Regions from separate parts of the Homo sapiens genome. Here region 1 is linked to region 2. The links come from fine-mapping of genetic effects on gene expression. A gene starts in region 2. The other region holds a variant in brackets. All regions are shown on one strand. Distances are from middle to middle. Region 1 has its middle 34 kb from the start of ADH7. Region 2 holds the start of TRMT10A (tRNA methyltransferase 10A).

Evidence for each region.
Region 1: its variant is fine-mapped to the expression of TRMT10A in anterior cingulate cortex (GTEx, PIP 0.98). The same link has a PIP of 0.9 or more in thyroid.

The regions. Positions count from the first base shown.
Region 1 is chr4:99,466,994-99,471,393 of GRCh38, forward strand. No RefSeq gene overlaps it. Among named protein-coding and RNA genes, the nearest start is that of ADH7, 34 kb to the left of the region's middle. The variant A/T (reference allele first, on the strand shown) is at 2,276.
Region 2 is chr4:99,561,547-99,565,946 of GRCh38, forward strand. TRMT10A (tRNA methyltransferase 10A) reads right to left here and starts at 2,493. Exons shown (of 8, transcript NM_001134665.3): 1 at 2,367-2,493. It also overlaps a transcript of MTTP not described here. RefSeq lists enhancers at 1,597-2,796, 2,032-2,161, 2,512-2,571.

The DNA of each region.
Region 1 (4,400 bases), 95 kb before region 2:
AAATGATTATAAAACCTTTAGTGGCTGAAAGAAAATTATGATGAAGTCTAGAAGAGAATCCTCTGACTAGAAGAGATTTGGAAACTATATGTGAACGTGTACCCACTTTTGCTTTTCTCTTTTATTTTTAAGACAGCCAAAATGTGTGTGTGTGTGTGTGTGTGTGTGTGTGTGTTTGTCTGTGTGTTAACCTTCAAACAATTCACCCCACCAAAATGTTTTAAGCCTTGATTTTATGTTAATTCTTGGACTGCTGATGGGTTATTTCCCTTTATTTTAATTCTTGGAGGTGTGGTAGTGGAGGCTGCTTAAACCACTGTGTTGACACATCCTGCAGATGGGAGTTGGTGAGGAATTCTCTTGACATCGATTGCAGCCAGGCGTGAAGATGAATGGTACTCACAGCAGCTAAAATCTTTCCTTCACATTTTACTGTTTTGTGTTTTGTTAGTTTTGTTTTTTAAACTTCTTAAAAATACTTTTCATCAGGTAAAATAGCAATCTGGGTTTTGGAAAGACATCAATTATGTATGGCTATGTTCACATTTATACTAGAAATTATTGTCTTCTTAGTGCCTTAACCTCCAGAGAGCCTTTCTATTTATTTTTCCAAAAAAGAGCAGCACTGGATCAAATGAAGTGTGTTCCAAAAGGAACTATTCCATTAATCATACATTTTCCATAATTCTTATTGCAGGATTTCAGGGCAGTCAACTTGTTTAAGGTCAGAGAATGAAAAAGAGAGACTTTTTCATATAAAGACAGCATTTAATTATGGAGTCAGATTTGCTCCTGCTTAGCAATCCCTGGCAAAACCACTCTCCTCCCATTAGTTAAAATAATCTCTTTTTATCACAATCTGTCCATTAAAATAACCCCCTTTTGTGAGAAAATTACTTACAAATAAAAATAAATGTTCTGTGCACCTAGAAGATCCCTACGAAGTTTCAATAACTGAGTTTAAGTGCAGAGGATAGCACTTCAACAAAGAATCAAAAGGCAAAATAAACCATAGAGATAAGGCTCAGTGATGAATAGCAGTGCTGGAGACTAACTGAATATGTGCTGGAAGTCTCATTTTGCCTTTGTTTGCTGACAGCTGCATTTTCCAACCAACTCAAAGAGCAATGAAAAGAACTCTTTTTCCTGACTGAACTCTATGCAAATAGGGAACGTTATTTGGTAGTAAGATGAAGGATGGAAATGACCATGTCATCTTAGATGATTTCCTTCCTAATCATCAAGGAAGCAACATTAAGAAGAATCAGACTTATATTTAAGCTTTGTAAAGGCCAAATTTTTTAAAGTTTAGGAAAAATAGGTTAGAGCCCATGGCTATGTACTCAAGACAATAAGTTGTTTCAAAGGGGAGGAATATTTAAAGGATGAAACTCTGACAATGGATTCTGCAAATGATCTCTGTGAGGAAGAATAGGGATACACATGTAACGATTCCAACATGGCTGCACTAGAGCTCTTAAAACAGACTTCTCAAAGAAGAGAACAACAAATTAAAGGAGAGCCCTGCTATCCAGGATAATAAAATAGAGTCTCGGGACCTATAAGAACAGTGTCTCAAAACTAAAGACCAAAAGAATGACTTGAGACTTTCTTTTTTTAAAAAAAAGTTAAGGGCAAATAAGGAGGCTTTTAATGTGGTTAATGTTATAATGCTATGTCTCAAACAAGGAAAAAGGAAGAGAAAAGAGTAGCTAGAGAAAGCAGAATTACTCAGGTCATTTTTCTTACATCTTTTCAGTAAGGAAAACTCTGATAGGTCGATCATGGGTAGACTAAACATTAAGAAACAAATTCTAATACAGGTCAAATGATGGTAAAATAGCAAGTGGTAGGTTTGAATGCTGGCAAATTATATTCTGGGATACTAAAAGAACCTATCTTTCTGATTGTGGATACATTGAGGAAGGAGAGAGCTATCTAAAGGGTGAACATGAGAAACTGCCACTTTTCTGAAAGGGCAATGGCTGCCTTTTCTTGTGTGACATTTCCCCTCACTGGAAGTGTTAATGTAGCAACAGCAAGAAAGGGATTCCCTGCTCTTACATAGTGGCTGGATTAGATCATCTTAAAGGCCTCGTCCCAACTCTGAGAGGCTATTAAAAGCCAGATTCCCAGCAACTGATGGGTTGCTGTATTACTCCATTCTCATGCTGCTGATAAATACATACCAAAGACTGGGTAATTTATAAAGGAAAGAGGTTTAATGGACTCACAGTTCCACATGGCTAGGAAGGCCTCACCATCATGGTGGAAG[A/T]CAAAGGAAAAGCAAAGAGACATCTCATATGGCACCAGGCAAAGAGAGAGCTTGTGCCAGGGAACTCCCCTTTATAAAACCATCAGATCTCATGGCACTTATTCACTATCACCAGAACAGCCCAGGAAAGACTTGCCACCATGATTCAATTACCTCCCACTGGGTCTGTCCCATGACACATGGAATTATAGAAGCTAAAATTAAAGATGAGATTTGGGTGGGGGGACACAGCCAAATCATATTGGTTGCCCAACCATAAAATCTGCAATCTTAAAAATTACAGGGGGGAGTACACCTTGGTTTTAACAAAGCCTGTAACTTCAAATACTATGTTGTCACTCATTTCAATGAGCACGTGTCAGATAGGCTTCTCAAGATCCCTGGAACTAATAACATTCAGCAGCTCCCAGAGATATGGCCTTCTTAAATTTGTTTCTGTTGATGTCAATACCAATGATCCTGGAAGCACCAGTAGCTTTGCAACCCATAATAATAAAGAGACCAACTTCACCCAGGCCAAACACAGTACAAGTTAGAAAGAATTTGACCTAAATTATCAGAAGACACAGACATCCAAAGGCAATGCAGGCTGAGAAAGTGAGTGGACCCCATTCCACTGGGAAAGGGAGGTGATGTTTCTGGTCAATTTGTCTTTTTAAATTATTAAATCTTTCAAATAACACTTTCCTTTGAAAGGAACTTGAGAGCTTTATATGATGTACTACCAATCTCTAGACAACAGAGGAAAAGATTTCTTATAGGAATGTCAGAAACTAGTATTAGAATTGTCAAAATTATGATTCCCCTAAGGGCTTGGAGAGCAGTTTCCAATTTTTCTTTTTTAGGTTGAAGACCAGTTGAGTAGCAGTAGCTGTCGATGTAACTTTCTCCCTTTGGGCATTATATTTACATGAAGGAAGCTGCAAAAATTTTATTTTACCCAGCCACTGTGATTCAGTTTTTGGTGTCTACTTATGAGGTTGCCATGCATAAAAAACAGAAATATGTGGCTAAGAATTTCCTAGAAATGCACATAAAAATCTGTACTGACTGCATCTCCTTTAACCAAGGATACACATGTAATGATTCTAAATGATTCCATTCTAATGATTAGGCTAAACAATTCTAATAAAGTACGCATCCATAGAATCTATTTAGTAACTGTCATTCCTTATAAAGCCTTTATTCTCCTTTGAAATAACTGGAAGGGGGTACGAAATGTGACTAAGGCTCATAAAAATGAGAAAGGGCAACAAAAGGTAGCTGAATTGTTATCTTTAACCCGAACCTATTTACCTTTGTTTAGAAGAGGACAACACTTAGGTTCCATTATTGCACTAAAAAAAGCCAGTTAACTTATGCAATCTTCCTGAAAAGGGTGTTTTTTTAAAAAAATAACTTCTTGACTGAGAAGCCCTTGGCCCTTCAGGCAATTTCTGTTGAGACAGAAATGGTCAGCACCTTCAGTCATTAGTTCAGTGTCACTTCTTTTGGGGGATTGTCTATTCATGGTAGTCAACTGAGCATACACAATGCCCAGTTACCAATGGAGCATAGGCAGTTTATAAAGTTATGAATTTGTGTCAGACTTGAGAGTTGCAAAAATCAGTAGTATTAGGGGGTTTTATTTCTTGATAGATTTATTTGGGCCTTTAAAATTTGGCCCCAAATGTTGTAAGCAGAAATTCTTGTAGACAAAGGACAAATGAAAGAGCTGTCTTCTTTCCCTTTCTGTTCTCCACTTTAAGACAGCCCAGACTAGTATATGAGGGTATTTAAATTTCCTATACCAAAAGAGAAGACCAGCAAACTCTTTACTTTTCATATTCCAGTTTTCTTCAAAAAGCAAGCTTTCTAAATGATAATCTCCTAAAAATACCAGTTAAGAACAGATGCTACCATTTTGCTAGTACTTTATGAGAGAACTCCAAGAATCCTAATGAGTTGCTATCCCACTCTCAACACTTCCCTTTACTCCTGTTTTCCATGCATTCTTTTCTATATGCAAGAAAACAAAGAAAAATGCAATAAGTAAATGTAAAATACTAAGTGGTATAAACTAAGTTGTGTATTCTCAAATGTGCTAAGCAACAAGGAAGCCTGACTTGTAACATTATGTGTTTGT
Region 2 (4,400 bases):
ATGCAACAAAAATGATGCTAACCTGATATCTTATAAATTATTCCGTATAGTATACTTTACAAAGATATCTACCAACTCGCACTGTCTACACTATACAATAAGTATAATGTATATCTACACTGCACTATGTACTAGCGTGTTCAGATTACCTGTTAAGCAAAACAGCATTTTATTAGGTATACTTGCTTTCTAATTGTTTTAGTTTGGGCAATAATTTATAAAATTCCATGGCAGAGTTTTTCATTCCTTTCTCACATGCAGTGATGCTCACAGTACATTTTCATTCATTCAACCAAGTTCAACAAATGTTCAAGAACGTATTTTACAGTAACTATAAAAATATTTGTGTGAGGTCGGGCGCAGTGGCTCATGCCTGTAATCCCAACACTTTGGGAGGCTGAGGTGGGCGGATCACCTGAGGTCAGGAGTTCAAGACCAACATGGCGATACCTCGTCTCTACTAAAAATACAAAAATTAGCCAGGCGTGGTAGTGGACGCCTGTAATTCCAGCTACTCGGGAGGCTGAGGCAGAAGAATCGCTTGAACCCGGGAGGCAGAGGTTGCAGTGTGCCATGATCGCAGCACTGCACTCCAACTAGGGCAACAGAGTAAGACTCCGTCTCCAAAAAAAAAAAAAAATTATATATATATATATGTGTGTGTGTGTGTGTGTGTGTGTGAAATTTTACTCCTGCATAAAATTTTAAAAATTTGTGGGGTTCATTCGCAGACATAGGTTATTAAGTGGGCTTACAAACTATCTCACTTTGTAAGGCAAGGACACATCCTACATCAATGAGCACCAAAAGAAAAAAAAAAGTTTTTTAAAACTGCATTAAGTTATGGATTGGGATAAAATAAATAATCGTCGTTAATTTATGACAGTCTCCTTTTCAGAAAAATCTCAACGAATGTGGGAATAATGCAGATTGGAATTAATGACTTGACAGCGATAGCAAAGGAATGCCTTTTTTTTTTTTTTTTTTTTTTTTTTTTGAGAGGGAGTCTTGCTAGGTCGCCCAGGCTGGAGTGCAGTGGCGCAATCTCGGCTCACTGCAACCTCTGCCTCCCGGGTTCAAGCGATTCTCCTGCCTCAGCCTCCCGAGTAGCTGGGACTACAGGTGCGCGCTACCACGCCCAGCTAATTTTTGTTATTTTTAGTAGAGACGGGGTTTCACCACGTTGGCCTGGATGGTCTCCATCTCTTGACCTCGTGATCCACCCGCCTCGGCTTCCCAAAGTGCTGGGATTACAGGCATGAGCCACTGCGCCCGGCCTTTCTTGTTTGTTTGAGACGGAGTTTCGCTCTTGTTGCCCAGGCTGGAGTGCAATGGCGCAATCTCGGCTGATTGCAACCTCCGCCTTCTGGGTTCAAGTAGTTCTCCTGCCTCAGCCCCCCCAGTAGCTGGGATTACTGGCATGCGCCACCACGCCCGGCTAATTTTGTATTTTCAGTAGAGACGGGGTTTCACCATGTTGGTCAGGCTGGTCCCGAACTCCTGACCTCAGGTGATCCACCCGCCTTGCCCTCCCGAAGTGCGGGGATTACAGACGTGAGTCACCGCGCCCGGCCAGGAATGCCCTTTTAAAAGACATGCGGACTAAACGTGGAGGAGCGAAAAGCCCTTTGTTCACTTCAGTTGTCAAGCCTTTTGGGCAGAGGGTTGGGAATGGAAGGGGCAGATGAAATTCTTTCAGAAAGTGACAAGTAATGTGTTGCCATCCTCTTCATATCTGTAGAAAAATTCCCAAATTTAAAGTATTTCAGTGAAATCAAGTAACACTTCGATCTTTATAAAACTGTCCTCAGCTCACAGCACCTGCAGCAACTTCCCCTCGGGCTCTCTACATTTCAGAGAGTTCAGCGACGTCAGCCCTTTGCAGGAAAAATGAGGTAAGGCAGCTTTAAAGAGGTAAAGCCCACGGTCTCTAGCCACGAAGTGGCAGGGCCATAACACGCTTTCCGGCCCTTTAGAGTACAGATTTCCCACTGATTCTTTGCAAACTCACTTTTCACATACTACGGGCCGATGGCAACCCCAAAACACACGCCGACGGAAAGCGCCCCACCACGGGGCGGAGCCTCGCCCACTATCCCTTCTAGGCTCCCAGCCAGCAAACGCATTTCAGAGACGGGATTAAGCTGTCTCTGGCGAACCAGGGAGCAGCTGGGTAGGCCGCGGGGGGCGCCTGTCATCGACGTCATTTCCTTCAGCAAGAGCGCCGCAGGAAACCACTTCCACACCACTGCTCCCCTCTCCCCCGGAAGCCCTTGTTGCTAGTAGGGGGCTGCATGGCACGCGCCCCTTTGCGTCCAGAGAATACCATAGTGCGGGGGAGCGCCAACCAGTGCCAGGACACTTACCGAGCTGAAGAGTTGACAGGGAAGTGAAATCTCAGAAAGAAAGCCTTTCTGGGTTGGCCTGGTTACGGCTCACGCTTCCTTCCACAGAAACTTCAATTCCCAGAGGCAGGGGCGGTAGTTACGCAGTGGAGGCTACGGCGGTTGCGTCTTACGTCATCGAACTGCGGCCATTTCGAACCCGCAATGGAAGAAAGGGGAGGGGTTTATGCGGGGCGGGGTCTGGAGTTAGTGTTTTGGGAGTGGGAGGTAGTTACAGTGATGTCTGTTTTTTCCCGTTCAAGAATTAAGTGTGTACCTGCAGACGTGTATTCATTCATATATTCTTGTGAGTATTGGATGAAGGAATTAAGATAGTCCCACTGTTAAAAATGCAAAACAACGAAGAAAGGCTCCTAATTTTTCTGTGTTGAAAATGAGAGAAAAACATCTCTTGCCTATATTATTTTTAATTTATACAGAAAATTACCATATCACATGATTTTACATAACTCAAGTGGAAAATTAAATTCAAAAAGTGAGTCAGATTCACAATAAAATGCATTTAAATTTAGAATCTGTAAGGCTTTTTTATGGCTGAAGTAAAACAGCCATAGCTTTACTCTTTATTCATTCCTTGAGCTATTTTTCCTATGCTGTTTTGCAAAACATCAGATGACATTTCATTGTTTATAATACTTGACCTTATATAATCTTTTGCTATATATAGATCATGTCAACTGAGAGAGAAATGAAATACAACCCCGTAGATTGTCATTTTCTATTTAGTTTTTTTCTCCTCTACTTCTAATAGGTGATTATTGCAGAATTTGAAGGTAAGAATGAGGTTTGCATCTTGAATAGAAGACTGGCTTCTCATATAGAAAGAATTTTGAAGTAAATTATCCTTGAAGATATTTGAACATGTTTAAAGGCTTCAGTGAATAGAAAATTAAATCCAGAATTTGAGATTCTCTAAAAGAGCCGAAATTTCTTTGACTTTAGTTACAAAACTAAAGTCACTCTTGCCATAAGCCCTTAAATTTTACTTGAAACACTGTATCAGCTATAACACTGTTGTGAGTCCCTCTTCTGTTTCTTCCTCATCTCAAACCTAAAAGATCTTTGTTAACTGAGCACTGGCAAAAAAGTCTGGATCCACTTCTGATCTGTTAGTAGGGCATCTTTTTTCAGCTGCCTCCATATGAGGGCAAAGAGTAGCTGAGGGAGGATTAGTAATTGGATATGTAGCCCTTCACATGTAGGTCATTAAATTCAGGCTGGCAAAGTGATGTGCCAAATCTTTCCACAGCTGTTCAGTTGCTCCTATGGGATCTGTTTTATAAATAATTATACAGTTTTTTCAGAGTTAATACCTGGCCTCCTTAGATATTTTAAACAAAGTTTTAAAGCAAAAAAAACCACTTCATATTCTAATAATGAAGTCAATAAATTTTCTTTTGACATAGACATTTAACTTTGTAGTCATTTGGTGCAAAATTTAAAATGATTCTATTATTAATCCAAAGTAAGCACCAAAAGAGCACCAGCAAAAGTCAATTTAACAAAAAATTGAAACATATAGAAAGTTTAAGACGGTGAAATCATGTGAAACAATATTTTCATTGATTTGTAAAATTTATGTATTTATTTATTTGACACATGTATCGAGTTCTATGCGTTTTGTCTTAGTATTGGTGATACAGAAATGACGAAATCATGCTCTCTGTGCTTAAGGAATCCTTAATCTAATAGGGGAGCCAGCAGTAAATAAATACCATACAACATGTACTTGAGATGCTTGTACTTTGAAAGAAGCAACTAAATGCTCCTTGAGGCAGAGGACATAGTTTTGGAGATTAAATAATTTTGTTTCATCTTGGAAAGTAAGTAGGAGTTGTACAGGTGTCAGAAAAGTGAAGAAGTTTAAGATATTGGGAACAGTGAAAGCAAAGACCTAAGCGTGTCATAGTTTTGCACATGACTGAAAAGCTGTGGATAGAATGAGGAAGAAGGAGGAGATAATAACCCTAAGGGCTTCTCTAACTTGGACAACTG